Regions from separate parts of the Homo sapiens genome. Here region 1 is linked to region 2. A link means that fine-mapping ties the variant in region 2 to the expression of a gene that starts in the linked region. Tissue or cell type: unexposed skin. Region 2 holds a variant in brackets; the other region holds the start of a gene. All regions are shown on one strand. Distances are between the middles of the regions.

Region 1 (8,413 bases), 22 kb after region 2:
ATTCAGGTGGGCCCAATGTAATCACAAAGGTTCTTTCACGTGAAAGAGGGAAGCAGAAGTCAGCGTCAGAGTGATGCCCCAAGAGAAAGATTGGACTGGCCGCTCTGAGCTTTGAAGACGGATGGGGCTACAAAACAAGGAATGGGGGTGGCCTCTAGAAGGTGGCAAAGGCAAAGAAACAGATTCTCCCCTAGGGCTTCCCAAAGGAACAAGGCCCTGCAGAGTCTCTGACTTTTGCCCACTAAGACCCACGTTGAACTCCCACACCACAGAAGTGCATTGGGCCCACCTGTATAATCCTGAATAACCTCCCCATGGCAAGACCCTTAACTCAATCACATCTGCCAAGTTCCAAAGTGGACACCTTTGGTGGGGGGCATTATTCTGCCTATCCCAATGATGTTCCTTCTTCCTGGAGTGTCTACTCTGCTTAGAAGACTTCTAATTCTTTGGGCATTCCTTAATGAAATATCATGACTTTTCCCATGGAAATGTCACTCCAAGCATGAGGTCCTCTCCTCCTCCAATCTACGGGGTTCATTTCCCCGCCTCCTCAGTCCCATGTGCATCCCTCTCTGGAGCACTCATCCTGTACTGTGTTTTATTTGTCCTCAAGCATATCTCCCTGACTCGACTGTGACTTACTCTTACTCATTTTTGTGGCCTCAGGAGTCTAACTATAAAAGTTTGTGGAAAAAAAAAATGTGATATTTTAATGAGTAAAGACCTCAGGTGGAAGCAGAGGCAAGACCAATACATTCACAGGACTTCTGTTTGGAGCATAACTTATAAACTACTTCTGATAGCTCTTAAGTGGTTACACCATGACATAATCAACCAAACCCTTTGTAACCATCTTTCAACCATGCCAGGGAGGTATTATACCAAACTTAAAATTAACCACTGGCATTTTAAGGCCATTTCTAACCGCAATGTGATATGCCATAGATTGAAAACATTGTCAAAGTTTTAAGTGTCCTCCTGGCCTTGGCTAGGAAAGACAAGTCACACCCTAAGTGCTGGGTTAGATGCCAACTTAGGGGAGTGATAGTATCTGCATGATTTCTAAATTCCAAAAACTAACACTTGTTTAACAAATCTGGCTAGGCTGTGTTGAGGTTAAAAGCAACTTGGCTACAATATTTATTTGTATTCCAGTATCTAAAAGTTCTTGCATTAAAAAGTAGAATAAAAAGTCCAAATTAAGCACAATTTAAAATGCCTCGAGTATTTAAATTGCAAGCCAAATAGGAATTGGATAAATTAAGGTCACAGGGATTGGGGGATAGATCTATTTTTAAAGGGAGTAATTTGCTGTAAATGTCTAATGTCACCAACAACATCATACAGTCTAGAAATCTAAACACATGGAAATAAACCTAAAAATCACGTGCCTAGCAAGTGAGCTGCAAGAACCCAATAGTTAACTACAAAAGAGAAGAAATGATCACCTTTTTTTGTAACATGCCTACAAAGTCTATTTTTTTCTTCATGAGCAGTAATAAAACCCCTTTTCAACCTAACTCCTGTTGTTTTTTTGAGTTTTAGGTTAGGGAAATGTGGACTTTTTGAAGCCAAGGGCAGTATGTAAGTAAGTCTTTGATTAAATTTCATCGTGTCTCTTAACACTGAGAAAATACTTAGGATTTGTACTTAGGATTTGTGGATCGAGAAGGGGGCCTATTGATCTGTATTAAACCTCACATTCACAAAAAGTAAACTGAGGCCTTGCTGCTTCCTCCAGGTCAGGAAGAACCCAAGGCTAAGGGGAGACTCTAGCTACTTCTACTGGGGAATGTCACCTGAGGATATGAGACCTGCTGTTCAGGATAAGGTGTACATGCAGGCAGTACTTCATGAAAGATTTTAAACTTGATGCATTTTTATAGAAAAGAGAAGCACAATTATTCAATATTTGTGTTGGAGTTTTCAAACTTATTTTTCTATAAATGTATTTAGAAATAAATTTAGGATGAGTGAACATCACCAACCAGACTATTTGGCTAAAATGGGGGACTGCAGGTTCTAATTCATAAAAATGGTAATCATGTTGTTGCTACTGCTGTTGTCTGGATGTTTCAAGCCTTTCCTATTATTAAACCTCGGTTATGCAGCATCACAGGACAGAGCCAACTCTATACTGGGGGAAATCACCCCAGAGAGTATCCAGAATTAGAGCTGGAGCCATCTCAGGCTTGCAAGCAAGCACCAACCTTAAAGCCTACCCACAACTCAATGAAAAGTCAATGCATTTCTAAAGTCTATTAAGGTCTATAAAGAATGTAAACAATTGTTTTGTAATAAGCTTAATGAATAAAACAACTGAACCCACTAAGTGGTACTTATAGAAAAGAGGCTTGAGAATTTAGCTTTAGTTAGCAGAACTAGTTCCCACTAGAACAGGATTGTTTATCTTGCCCCTATTAGATACAATAATCCTAATAGTGTTAATGGTACTAAATGTTTTAGGAATAAACAACTGTAGAAACCACACTGGGACCTACAAATTGCACTTTCTGTGTAAGTAAAATGTCAGAAGAACTACACTGTTATAACTTACGGTCTCATGAAACGACATTTTTTTCCATCTTGTATTTCATCTTGAAGGATTTTACTATGTTCAGCATAGTAGCAACTGAAAAAAATGTGTTTCATCTAGAAACAAAAGTGAGAAAACTACAAAAAACACTGAGCTTCTGCAATGCTCGGTTTCCAAGTTTTTAACATTAAATCGAAGATAACGCAAAATAAAGATTGCCACAGTAACCAAACTTTTCTGCTAAGTATCCTTAAAAATAATGACAGTTCGATCGTATCTTAACTGTTTTCTACAATGTGAGCAGATAATACACCTACAAACCTTTTTTTGCTACCTTGCTTTATAAAGCTTGCAAGTTTTTTTTTCAGGGCTGGAGAAGACAGCTTAATGATCAAGCTTAAAATAAATCGGTTCTGCAATCACTCTGTATTTTAATCCGATGAAGCACGTTTCCCCATTCCACGCCATGAAGCAATTCGATGTCAACTTGTTATGGAGTCAAATGCGACAAACTCCGAGAGCTTCAGTAGCGAGGCGGCGGCTCGCAGCACCCACAGCCGCCCGCACTCCTGCGGCATCAGGACACGGCGCCCTCCCGACGCGGAACCCGCATTCACGTTCTCCGGAGCCCTGGCCAGCGCACGCTCCTCCCTGTCCGGGTAAACTGAGGCACAGCGATGAGAGAGATCCAGAGCCCAGCGAAAGCCCCCACGGCTGTTCGGCGTCCCCTTCCCCCACGACACCTAGGAGGCTCGCCGGCAGCTGGCAGTGGATTCCGCGCTCCTCGCCCTCGGAAGGTTACGGTTCGAGCCCAGGATGCGGCAGTCCCCAAACGGCCAGCCCCCGCCCCGCACGGATCTCGAAGCATCCTGCGACCCCCTGGAGCCCGCTGCCCGGACCCTGCGGCGTCTCGCAGCGCAGCCTCCGCCGCAGTCTCAGCCAGCCCAAACACCCGAAAGTTCGGCGGCCCCGGCGCCGACTCGGCCGCCGACCCGGTGCGGGGCTGGCTCCCACCCGTGCCCCTCCGCCCCGGCCCGCCGGGGGCCCCCGCTAACCTGACACCGCCGCGCCACTCAGGTGGCCGCCGTGCACCCCTCGCCATGGCCAGCCCGACAGCGGCCGCTGCGCCGCACTCTGCGCCGGACGCCCGGTAGCGCCTACTGCGGGCGAGCCGCCTCCGCCGGCGCCTCACAGCGTTGCGAGCTGCGCCGCCGGCTGCCGGGAGCGCGGAGCTTCCCACCTACAGGAGCCTGGGCCGGCCGGGGCCGAGCATGCCCAGTGCGGCTCGCCGGGCGGCGCGGAGGCGCGGGTGTAGCCGCCGGGTTTTCGCGGCAGCCGCGGGCGGGGGCAGCGGGGCGGGCGGTGCGGCGCGAGCCAGTCGGTGCTGCGGAGCGGCCCCGCGGAGGAGCCACCGGAGGCTGTAGTTGCCGGGGAGTCCCGCATTCAGTCCGCTCAGCCTCTGGGCCGGGCCTCGGCGGCCCCCAGAGCCCCACACCCGCAGGCCCAGGGCCTCCGCGGCAGCGCGGGACTCTCACTCCGCTCTCTCTCCCGCCCGGGGCTTCCACCGCAACTTCTGTGGGCGTCGCATCGCACGCGTGTTCAAGGACACCCAGGAAAAGGCTTCTTAGGGTCCCATCCTGGGGCGCTAAATGGGAACCAGTCAACCCACCCCCAAGCCTACCCTGTCTCCTTGCAATCAAATGCAATCACGAGCAAACCACCTTGCTTCCGAAAGCTTCTCAGGCCTTCCCGGGCGACTGCGCTGTAAGTCTTAAACGTCTCTTAAAGCAAAGTCCACAGATGGAAGAGTCTGGAAAAAAACCCAGCGGGCCGTTCCCTGGTGACTTTCTGAGTGGTGGGGTTCCAGGAATTTTTTTTTCATTTTCTTTAAAAATATTATTTGTAATTTCCACGTTTTTTCTAATGAACCATAAGTTGATTTTTTAATTAAAAAGTAGAGTACTCTAAAATTATTAAGTACCTACAGAAGTTTCGCTACACGATCCTGCAATGTTAGTGGCTTCTTCTCCTCCTTATCTCCCTTTTTTTTTTTTTTTTTTTAATTTTAAAAGAGAACAGAGACTCTCAATTTCTGGGGCGGGACCAGGCTCCTTCCCCCGGCTTTTTAGTGCCCGCCCTCTTGGCCACACCCCACTCCGGCCTTTTTACTCCCGTACCGCCCTCTTCCCGGTGGGTTGCTGCGAAAACCCGGAAAGGTGGACTTTCCACATTGACGCTCCCGGCGGCTCCGGCAGCCAGACTGGGCATGTTCCGCCGCCGGGTCAGGCATTGCTGTGCCAAGAGAGGAGCTTTAGCAACTCTCAGTCTCTCTGCTCCTCTCTGTTCCTGGCAAACTGGCAAAGTAGTGCCTCTGACCCCACGCCCCGAGGTCGGACCTGCAGAAGTGGGTCAGGACCCGACTGAGCATGCTCCGGGCAGTGCCAGGCTGCCGCACGCGGCTGCATCTGGTTGCCCAAGGTTGATGTAGCCGCGGTCTCTCGTCACGACATCGAAGCTCGGGAAACGGATGGAAGCAGGGCTCTAGAGAGGCACGATTGCATCGACACGTGGGCAGGTCGCCCATGCCAAGGGCCATGTTGGTGGGTGGGTGCGTGGGATCTGTCGTATGAGTGAGTCAAAGCCTGATTTTTTCCCCCAAAAAGATTGAAATGAGATATCATATTTTAACATTAGTTTTATGGCATCTTGAATAGCAACACATTTTAGCTCAAGGAATTTTTCAGCTGTCCTTTTGAGAAACGTAAATTTTCTTTGTTTTTAAGTATTTAATAAGCATTCTTTACAATTGCACCACAGCGCGAACTTTCCACCTGCTTTATTAATTATGACATTTGTGTCCCCACTATTAAAATATTCCGCAGTATTATATCCCGTTTTCTTCTCCAGCATTTCTGCATTCACTCTGACTCTATTTCCTCCCCTCCCCCATCTCTTTTAAATTCTCAGACAACCTGCAAAATGCACTCTTGCTATCTTAGAAACCACTTGAGGTCGGTGTGGGGAACTTGCTTTTAATTCTCATTTAGAGAAGACAGTACTGAAATGGAGAAAAGTCACAGGGAAAGTACTTTTACAGATTGTAGATTAGTAAAGAACCCAAAGAGAGCCTTTCATTGAGAGCAGAAAGGCGAATGGAATTCGCTGTTTTCTGTCTAAGGAGGAGGAGGATGGGCAGGCAGGTCAGCTGCCCAGTGGGGCTTGGTGTGATAGTGGGAGTCACCCTTCATTTGAACCTCTCTGCCTTGCCCAGCTCCAGTTCAGCTTCAGCGTGGTCAGAGACACTATCTCTATGGAAGGTCACTCCTGGAAGAATACATTTACTTAGCTGCTTCCACCATGGAATCCTAGCTTGTGCTGGAGTGTCCCCTTCATCCTCCTCCTGTGCTTTGAGAATCCATTGTTGCTGGTATGCCCTGAGCAGTGCCCTTGAACTTGCCCAGGTACCCCTTGACATCCACACCACAAATAGTCTAGCCTTACAAAGGTGGACAAGATGTCTTTTCAACAGTCTGTACTGCCACTTCCATCCATCTGAAGCTTTCTGTTCCTGAGTCTGTCATGACATTAATCTTTCAAAAATCTTTCACAGAGATTTTTAGTCTCTACTAAAAATACAAAACAATTAGCCAGGCATAGTGGTGTGTGCCTGTAGTCCCAGCTACTTGGGAGGCTGAGGCAAGAGAAGCGCTTGAATCTGGGAGGCAGACGTTGTAGTGAGCAGAGATTGCGCCACTGCACTTCAGCCTGAGCAACAGAGTCAGACTCCATCTCAAAAATAATAAATATATATATATACACACACACACACACAAATAGTATGGATAAAGGGAAGACGCTGACCTATCAGAACAACTGCCTGATCAACCAGAAAGGATTCCAGAAATGAACACCTCGCATGGCCATGTGAGAACATACCAGCTAACACCCCTTTGACAGCGGCAATCATCAGAGAGGATGACAGCTCTCAGGAAGAAGAGACCACAGAACACCTACAATGGGGCGGTGCAAAGGATGAGAATCTGGAGGAGGAGGATGAGAAGAAACAGGATGACCTGCAATTGCTCTTCTGCTTGTATTTACTAGCTTGGTTAGCGGGTACCCGTATCTTCTCAGTCACTTACATGATGAATCTGGGCGTTACCCTAGATTCATTCATCTGCCTTTCCCGTGTCATCCAGCTGGTCTCCTGGCATTATCTATCCTGTCCTTATTCATTTCTGAACACCTCCCTTCCTTGCCTCATTGCCTGTCTTACTCCAGTCCCCATCATCTTCCTGATCAACCACAGAGCAACAGACTCCTAGATGGATCCTCTCTCTGTGTCCCCTCCAATCCATCCTCCATAGCTCCTCAGACTTTTCTTTTTAAGCCAATTGTATTACAATATGTCTGCTAAAGATCCTTAAGTGAATTCATAATGCCTTCAGGATAAGGTCCAAACTTTAAGCATGAACTGGCTGCTGCCTTCCTTTCCAGATTAGTCTCCAGCCTGTGTCCCCTAATATCCCATATCCTCACCAGTCCAAATTACCTGCCGTGTGAATTCACACCTCCATATATCTGTTAGTTCTTTTGTCTCTCTTTCTCCTTTCTTCACCTGACAAACTGTTGAGCCTTGGAGATCCAGTTCAGGCAGGATGTCCTCTGATCTTCCCAAGGTGAATGCCTCTTGAGTACTTCACCTGTTTTCATTTGACACCTAACCTTGATTGATTTTTCTTTCATCTCCTCCGCTACACTGTAGGCAACCTGATCGCAAGGGCTGTGTCTCAGCCATCTTTGTGTCTTCGTTCTTAGTCTTCAATAGAATTTTACTTAATAAATAAATACTTAACATATGGACTGATATAATGTTTAAAGTTTATTAATTTAAAAAAAATGTTGCTGAGAATTATAAACAGATTGCAAAGAAAAAATGCCAGAACAGTCACATCATATGCAACCTGCTGAATGGTTATGCTCCTAACAATAAGTTAGGAGACTAAGATAATTGAGCTCTCAGATTTGACCTCCTTAAGCCCAATGAATTTTCTTCAGCTTCAGAAATCAGGAAGTATTTTGTGAACCAGTCTGATGTCCTTGTTTTATTGGTCTGTAACTGCATGAAGCCCAGCACTGTATTACTAATTAACCCACAAATTCCATTGTTCTTTATCACTGTATTTATTTCTTTCCACAACGTGGTAATAACCTTCTAATTATGTGGTTACTCCTTAGAATAGATTTAGTTTATTTTTTTCTGTTGAAAGCATGGCACCCCAGGAGGGCAGACTAGCCTTTTTGGAATTAGCATAATTTTTTACAGTTCTATCAGCTCATAATGTCTGCTGGGGGCACCTGGTACTAACTATGGGCGAACTGATCACCAGCTTCAGGATCACCTGGTGGATGAAGTTTCCATTCCAGACCTCTGGATAGAGTAGTCCAAGAGGCAGTGATTTTTAACAAGTCCTCCTGGTGACTCTGCACACTCTATGTGAGAAACAGTTCTAAGTCACATGGATAAAAGGAAAAATAATAACTCTTGGTCAAAAACTTCAAGTAGCCCCTGTATTGGGTTTTCTTTGGCAGAGAGATCTATGTGGGTGGGAGAGGTATCTGCCCATTAATAAAAGTGTTGTTAATATCTGTGCTTCTTACATAGCCTTGGCTTATATTAGAGGGTCTGGAGAACATAGGAGAGTAACCCAGTAAAGTAGCTGCTTGTTTTTGCACTTGTTGAACAACATAGAGATTTTGCTTTGTAATCGATGCAGGCCCAATGGTACTCTCCAGTTTCTCCTTTCTATATTCTAACCCCTCCAACAGAGAGTGAGTGGAGCATTGGAGGTTTTGACCTCACACTCTTCCTGG
Region 2 (8,413 bases):
CCCATCTTGGCCTCCCAAAGTGCTGGGATTATAGCCATGAGCCACTGCACATGGCCTTGATGAGTGTTTTAAATCTCAAGTATTTAATATACTAAACAAGAATTCAGTATAACAGGTTAATACACCACTTCACACTGATCTTAGAGGTAAAGGATAATTTACATCTAATGCTGTGGACACCGACCTATTGATATATAAATATTAAGTAGGGAGGTGATAACTACAGTCTTATCACTGGCTGACACAGCTTGTCATGGTCCCTTGCAGAACTAGTTAAAAGGCATATTACAATCTATTCAAAGAAACCTGCAAAAGTAGAGGGATAAAAACAATAAAGCAAAGTAAACTAGAGGCAAAATTTATAATAATGAATTCCATAGCACTATAGTAGCAGTTGTGACAATTGTAGACTCAGTGCTTAATTGTTTTTGGCAACCAGACACTACAAGAGCACAGAAAACAAATCCACAGGAAAAGTAAAAAACCTAACTTAATGGAAGAATTTCAAACTTAATCTCTAACAAACCTAGACATGTTTACAAGGGCTGAAACCAGCTGACTTTCTTGAAATCCTCGTTACTTATCTCAGAGAGGTGCTAATGTTAATGTAAATGGTTTAAAGTCACAGTAAGAAGCAACAGTGAAAACACATTGGATAATTAGTGCCTGAAATAGTTAGGACTTAATTCCTGGCTACTATACATTTCTACTCACTTCTAGCAAAAGGAAAACTGAAAACAGTATATTTCGTGGCCATTTGTGGTTATTCATGTTGTCTGCTTTATGGTGTGTGGACTACCTCAAACAGGTTCTTTGCTGAACTACAAAAACAAAAGTCTTCCAGATAGAGATCACACATTAGCCTCTCCTGATCCTGTGGAATTGAAGTGACAGCACCAGGCAAGCAAAGCAAACCAGCTGCTGCTCCTGCCAATGACAGGAAATAGCCCCATTCTCTCTGGGCCTGGAGGGGCTGGCATGAATAACAGCTCTCTCACCTTTTCAGCAGAAACGAGACATGAAATTGCTCCTTTCCAGGCTAATCACAAAGTGAATGGCAGTGTGCTCCTTGAGTGACTCACCGATGATTTTTGAACGCCTTTTTGTGCATGTGCATGCCATGTACACACACATGTTCCGGCACAAATCCTAACACTGTCTGACCTTGCTATCGGTAGTGAGGATGCCTTTTCCATCTAGTTCTTCTCATATTCACTCAGTCTGAGTGAGAGGCTCTTCAACATTTTTCACCTACAGGACCTAAAGGATGATGTGGTGGGGCACAGAGGGAGAATGAATACCCGCTGGCCACACTCTGGTTGTGTCATACCCTCTGGTTTCACCTGGTTTCTCATCTGTATACATGAGGATTAATAACACTTCACTGTAGGGCTTATTATAAGGATTAGAAATAATATATGTCACTTGGTGCAGCGACTTAGTAAATGGCAGCAGTTGTTAATGAAAATTATAATTTTGTTAGTTTGGTTCTAACAGTAGTCTTAGTGTACCTAGGTAAGGTTCTAGGATATTAGTATCATTTTTCTTTTTTTTGTTTTTTTCAGACAGAGTCTCGTTCTGTCACCAGGCTCGAGTGCAGTGGCGCGATCTCAGCTCACTGCAACCTCTGCCTCCCAGGTTCAAGCGATTCTCCTGCCTCAGCCTCCTGAGTAGCTGGGATTACAGATATGCACCGCCACGCCCAGCTAATTTTTGTATTTTTAGCAGAGACAGGGTTTCACCATGTTGGCCAGGATGGTCTCAATCTCCTGACCTCATGATCCACCCACCTCGGCCTCCCAAAGTGCTGGGATTACAGGCATGAGCCACGCGCTTGGCCTAGTATTTTTCATACTATATTCAATCACCTCTTTATTTAAAAAAAAAAACAAAAAACAAAACACAAAAAACACCGCTCCATATAAACTTCTAGCCTATTGGTTTGAAAATGGAAATCTATGTCCATATTATAATATGGACATTTCCCCCTTCAAAAATGAAAAGTTAAAGACTGTGGGTTTACCAATAGGCCATTCCAGCTCTCAGATTCTGATATTTTTTGAGCAAGAATCTCTCGTTTCTGTTGTTTTCTGTGTATTGCTTGGTTGTTAGGTACACTGCTTTGTATATTATCCCATGTTGCTTATGCTCTGAAATTACCATCATGCATTGTAATTACAAAAGCTGAGCTGGAACATCAAGTACTAGTATCACGAGTTCTTTTTAAAACTTGAAAGTTTTAAAGAGATTTAAAATAGCTAACTGATTTATCAGCAAGGCTGCTGGCTACAAACCAGAGTGCTGAATTCTGATGGAGCAGTTCTCTGTGGCAAAGGCTTTTGACTGGCGGCCACTAGCTTGGGGTCTACTGACAGGCTACTACTATAGTCCATCTTAGCACCCACAAACAAAAGAAAATGGAGCCAAATATAACTACCAACTAGTTCAATGCCCTCAATACACAGATGAAGGAGGGACGGTGCAGAGTCAGCTTGCCAACGCTGAGTCAGCAGTTACAAGGACCTTTTCGCTAAGATACCACATATGTATCTCAGACGCAGTAAGATACTACACTTTGGGATAATCCTCGAAATGTTGGAACTGAAATTCAGGCCCCAGTGCTATGCTATTCCCACAGTTCTCTTCCTCTCTAGGACTGAGGAGTTCAGTGCCCCAACCCAGCTTTTTAATACCCAGGGATAACCTTTGCTTTAGGGTCCATGTAAAAGGGAGATCCAGGTCTTGGGTCTTTCTTCCCTTTGATTCAGTCACCGTGGGTTCCCTAGCGATAGCTCAGCCCTGCAGAAAGACCTGCTAAGGTACCTGGCCTGCAGTGTCTTTGTTACCATGGCTATTGCCCTCCATTCACAAGTGTGACATCACTGCCTTCTGACTTGTCCTGGAGGAAGTGGCTGTAGGAACCAAAACCAGTGTGGGCTAGGGGTTGTGTTCCCTCACCTTTCCACTGTCAGTAGTGAAGGTTCTTGTTATAGCCACTTTTTAAAATTGAGACAGAGTCTCACTCTGTCGCCCAGGCTGTAGTGCAGTGGCGTGATCTCTGCTCACTGCAACGCCTGCCTCCTGGGTTCAAGAGATTATTCTGCCTCGGCCTCCTGAGTAGCTGGAATTACAGGCACGTGCCACCATGTCCGGCTAATTTTTGTATTTTTAGTAGAGATGGGGTTTTACCATGTTGGCCAGGCTGGTCTCAAACTCTGGATCTCAGGTGATCTGCCTGCCTTGGCCTCCCAAAGTGCTGGGATTACAGGCCTAGTCATAGCCACTTAATAATAGCAGGACTTTGGGCAAATTTCAGTAAATGGGTATTTGAACTATAATGTCTTCAATGTGAGTTCTAATTTAACTTTGCTATGGTCCCACAATTCCTCTTGGTGGGTAAAAGTTCGACTCTCCTAGGTTAAACGCGATTCATAATATGTAATATTTTGACTTAAAGGAAGAAGCTTTATAATGCTCTACAACCTTGACTGGCTAACCAAAAGCAATGTAAGTGACAGCACTACAGCAAACCCCACATCCTGGCCAATTAGACGGCTAGCAGCCTCAACCATTCGGAACACAGCTGTGAACCAGAAGTAGGCAACTGCAAGAAAACTCCATTCACTTAGCTCCTAAGGAGATATACAGCATTAGCCTCTATTCTTTTTTCAGGGCAATTAAGATAAAATGAGGGAAAGAGATTTAAAATGTAGGTTTTCCTGGAGCAGAAACTCTTTTGGGGATTGCTCATTGGTTAAAGAATTGTGGAACAGGAGGGCAATGTGAATGGAAGAAACTAATAAGCTGCTACTTTAGAACAATGTTCTTTTCACTCCCCCACCCCAACCCCTCTACTTCACACAGTAAATGCCTAGGAAAGCAGATTAACTCCTTCTGGTCAATCTGACCAGGATTGGGTTTTCAGACAATTACTTCTCGCATCTAAAACAAGAAATGCACCGATTCCCGAAGACCCAATCCTCTCTCTGGCTAGTCTTTCCCGGAGTGAGGTGACTCACACTTTTTGGTCAGAAATGCATTTATTAAAAACCAAGCAGTCTCCTGTTGTCCCACATCCTTCCTTGTTATTGCATCCTCCCTCCCTCCCTGCCTCAGCCTAGAAACTGCAGCCAGGTCTCCAGGAATCCCAGCCAGTGGCTGAGACTTGCACTGAGGTTTCTTTCAGAAGTGTGGTCTTTAAATCCACGGCCAATGAATTAAATGGACATTTAATGATAAACAATGGCTATATTGTTTATTCCAGCCATCTCCATGAAAGAAAACAAAACTCCCTTAAAAATTGAATATATTA[T/C]TTAGGAAAATCCATTTTACATTTGTCTCTATAATGTATTGGATGTATTATATTACAAAATTCCAAGAAGCCTTTAAAAAGACTTCTGTGTTTGTCCTTTGTCTTCTGTGTCAATGAGGGAAAAAAATGAATTAATTGCTTCTTTGAATCCTTAAGGATATATATTCTCTCCTGCCTTAGAAAAACAAGACAAGATGAGATCTTTAAATCATTTGCATGAGAAGAACTAACATCACGGGTGCTGGCTCCAAAGCTCCTGTTTATATTTTATTATGACATTTGATACAACTTTAAAGCCTACCTCCTCCTCTCTCCTTCTCATCCTCTTCTTCTTTCAGCAGCTTGCCAATGGAATTATACCACTTGAACTGTGGGTCAGGGATGCCATAAACACTACAGTTAATCAAGGCACTGTTCCCTTCCTTGACTATGATATGGTCAGTTCTGGCAATGATTACGGGCACAGAGCCCAAGACCACGTTAGTGCCATTTAAAGTGCTGTTAGTCACACTCTTAGCGGTGGCTAGAGTGGATACTAGGATTAAAAAGGGCACAGAAGGTAGAAAGCACACAGTCAGATGGCTCTTCAATCGATCCATCTTCTTTGCTTGCTCTGTAAGGCAATAGAGAGATGGTTTGCCAACCGAATCTTCTATCAGACAACACACTGTTCACAGCAGGTCATGGGACAAACCTGTCCTGGGTCCATAGAGTTGGTACTTGAGCAAGAACCTGTTTTTAAGAAAACAAAAATATATACACATAAACATTAGCATTCATCCATTCAAAACACTATAAACGGTTAGCAATGCAGCTAAAATACAAACATCAACATACTTTTTTTTTTTTTTTGAGAGGGAGTCTTGCTCTGTTGCCCAGGCTAGAGTGCAGTGGGGCGATCTTGGCTCACTGCAACCTTCACCTCCTAGGTTTAAGTGATTCTCCTGCCTCAGCCTACCAAGTAGCTGGGATTACAGGCACCCACCAACATGTCTGGCTAATTTTTGTATTTTTAGTAGAGATGAGGTTTCACCGTGTTGGCCAGGCTGGTCTCGAACTCCTGACCTCAGGTGATCCACCCACCTCGGCCTCTCAAAGTGCTGGGATTACAGGCGTGAGCCACCGCACCCGGCCAAACCTACATACTTTTTAAACAAAACACAACCATAAGATGTTCCGGATGTGAATTATATTTTTCACAGAAATCATAATTTTGTTTTTTGCTATCAAAACATATAGATTTTATAGGAACAAATATTTCTTATATTAAATTTATATATTGCTTCATAGAGCGCAAAAATGGATTCAGGCTGCTTTCACTTACCATGACAAGCTCTCTTTCCTCCACATTACCTGTCTTCATTGTGGAGGACCTAATTGTTCACCTGGGTGTTCCTTAACCTCTTCTCTCCCAGTAAACGGGACTTCCAGTCTGCGTCACTGGTCACAGCTTGGGCTCTGCCGGCATTTGGAAGGACTGCATCAGAATCACTCTGGCATTCTCCTAACTACCCATTATAGCTTCCAGAATGCTCCTTACTGTCTCATTCAACTTCCCATGCTCCTCTGAGCTCCACCTCATCTAGCGCTCTCTGCTCTGTGTTACTGTTACTTACGGGCTCCAGGTCACTCATGTACACCCTGGTTTCAATCTCATCTGCCTCCCACAGGCTGGGGAACATCACCAGACATTACGGTTGGCGGCACTTCTATGTCCAAAGATCTAACCTTCACCTAGTCCTCTATCCTCCATTTCATTCTAATTCTATAGCCATGCCTTCTTCAAAGGCAGAAGTTATTATTTCAATTCTGCCTACAACAACACTGAAGGGGTACCTGGTGATGATAAATTAGCTTCAGATCATATTTTTTTTCAGTAGGAAAGAAAAGAGTTTTGTTTTGCCATAGATTTCCATAAACCCCACTAAACTGGAGTGCTTTCCTGCCCTAGGAAGCCAACACATTACGCCACCAGCTGAAACCCTGTGGCGAAGGGAGATAGCACAGACTGCAATGGCATGATAGACACCCTGCCATGACTTTGCAAATGTCTTTCTTTACTTGGCTAAACTTGTGGTTTCCTTTGTGGTTGGAAAGCTGACCTATTCGATACAGAATAGCTGTGAAGAGCATGGCCTCAGGTTTGAGAGAGACCAGGCCAGGATTCTGGACATAACCACCTTCGCTGGCTGTGTGTCTTGGGCAAGTACAAGACAATTATAAGGATTCACAATCAAATGTATACCAAACACCTATGTACTGCTGCCTTGATAAACAAGAATTATTAGCACAATGTATAAAGCATCCTTTATTGAAATGATGCTTCTCCAATCTATTTTTATGTCTTCTAAAAGCCAGATCTTGAGTTTTGCTTAAAACGTTATTATAAATTATAAATAATTATAAATGACTTTCAGCACTGGGTCCTTTGCAGGGGCTCAAGTCTGAGAATGCATGAGCTGCCCCCTTAGGTGTATTCTGTGGTGAGCATGTTGAGGGCAGGGGCTGGGTCACTCATTATTGACTCCCTGGTGCCCGAGCCATAGCAGATGCCTGGCTAAATACCACAGGGGAGAATCAGAGACAAGGCAGGTTGGGAGATGGGTTCTAATAAATATGGGTGGTAAATATAACTTTTCCCCCCAGTTAAAGAAAATGCCACAAATGGAAAATCAAACTGAATTTTAAAGTGTGTATCTCAAGAGCTGTTTTCAAACAGAGGCTCTCCACATTTGGCTTTCTACGTTCAAACACATTGTGCTAGCAGAGTAAAGAGAAGGGGATACTGCTGTGCTATTATATTTTAATAATGTCAGTAGGTGCTTTGGGCTAGAAACACAGCCAACTGTTCTGAAATGGAATCTAGTTCCGTTAGAGACCTTACGAGATACAGAAGCAGAGACTTTCGTTTTATGCAGGGATTTCAGTTAGCAAAATGTTTTCCCTCTTCCTCATTTTTATTCCCATCCTCTCCCATCTGGAAAAGTCACTAAGGTACAGAAGACATAACGCATCATTTACAGGTTGTTTGTATCACAGCGTTTTGCTCTAAAATTCTGTGAAAACTGATTCAAAGTAAGCACTGAATTAACACTAATGAATTAATAGTTTTAGTAAGAATTTACTTTCAATTTACTCTTTCACTTCAGATTTTTCAAAAGGTATTTATTATGTGCCGGGCACACTGCCAGGATTTAGGGGATGGGAAGTGCCACAAAGCTCAATAAACCACAGACCATGTCCACTCACAGTCTAGTAGTGGAAAGACATACAGATAACTTCAATATGTTCTCTAGGTGCTATGGGCTTGGAGTTGGGTAGGAAGGAGGGGCACCGAACAGCTTGGGTGCCACCTAGAGATGATGTTTGTTGACTGCCCATCCAGCATCCAGGCCCTCTTCTGCCTTTCCCTTTCTGTGAGTCCCATGGCTCACAGGGTAGAAACTTCTAGTCCTTCTCATCACCCCATCGCATGTGCACCTACCAAACTTGACACTGCTCCCTGGTGTATGATCTTGCACTTTTCTGTTTTGAGTAAATTCCTTCTCGATTACAAGGACAGCTCCTGGATAGCAAAAACTTGCACATATAGTTCAGTAGGATTTCCTTATTGCTAGGCACCCATAATCACGTTTACACACTTGCTGTATGAAGCCATGCTTATATGGAATCCAACGGCAATTATTTAAGAACAAATTACAATGTGTTGCCTGAAGAACATAAGATATCACGTGACTCTGGACGCTGGCAAAATATTCTGCAAATGTACCTTTTCAGCTTGTTGGATTAGGATCTTACAGACAGCACCATGAAAAGTTTAGTTGAGCTGGACATGGTGGCTCACGCCTGTAATCCTAGCACTTTGGGAGGCTGACGCAGGCGGATCACGAGGTCAGGAGTTCGAGACCAGCCTGGCCAATATGGTGAAACCCCATCTCTACTAAAAATACAAAAATTAGCCGGGCGTGGTGGTGTGCTCCTGTAGTCCCAGCTACTCAGGAGGCTGGGGCAGGAGAATCACTTGAACCCAGGAGGCGGAGGTTACAGTGAGCCGAGATGGCATCACTGCACTCCAGCCTGGGCGACAGAGCAAGACGCTGT

Alleles and levels. Alleles are on the strand shown, and positions count from the first base shown. SD is a standard deviation of normalised expression in the study named.
For the expression in unexposed skin of the gene that starts at base 3,756 in region 1, C is the low allele of the variant in region 2 and T is the other (small effect, 0.33 SD a copy in GTEx).

The links. PIP is the estimated chance that this variant, and not a neighbour inherited with it, causes the effect.
Region 1: it holds the start of MFAP3L, and the variant in region 2 is fine-mapped to the expression of MFAP3L in unexposed skin (GTEx, PIP 0.98).

The regions. Positions count from the first base shown.
Region 1 is chr4:170,022,640-170,031,052 of GRCh38, forward strand. MFAP3L (microfibril associated protein 3 like) reads right to left here and starts at 3,756. Exons shown (of 3, transcript NM_021647.8): 1 at 3,595-3,756. RefSeq lists silencers at 3,564-3,653, 3,734-4,133, 4,592-4,661 and enhancers at 4,133-4,852, 4,842-4,981.
Region 2 is chr4:170,000,967-170,009,379 of GRCh38, forward strand. MFAP3L (microfibril associated protein 3 like) reads right to left here. Exons shown (of 3, transcript NM_021647.8): 2 at 4,614-5,044. The coding sequence starts at 4,911. Among named protein-coding and RNA genes, the nearest start is that of MFAP3L, 21 kb to the right of the region's middle. The variant T/C (reference allele first, on the strand shown) is at 4,313.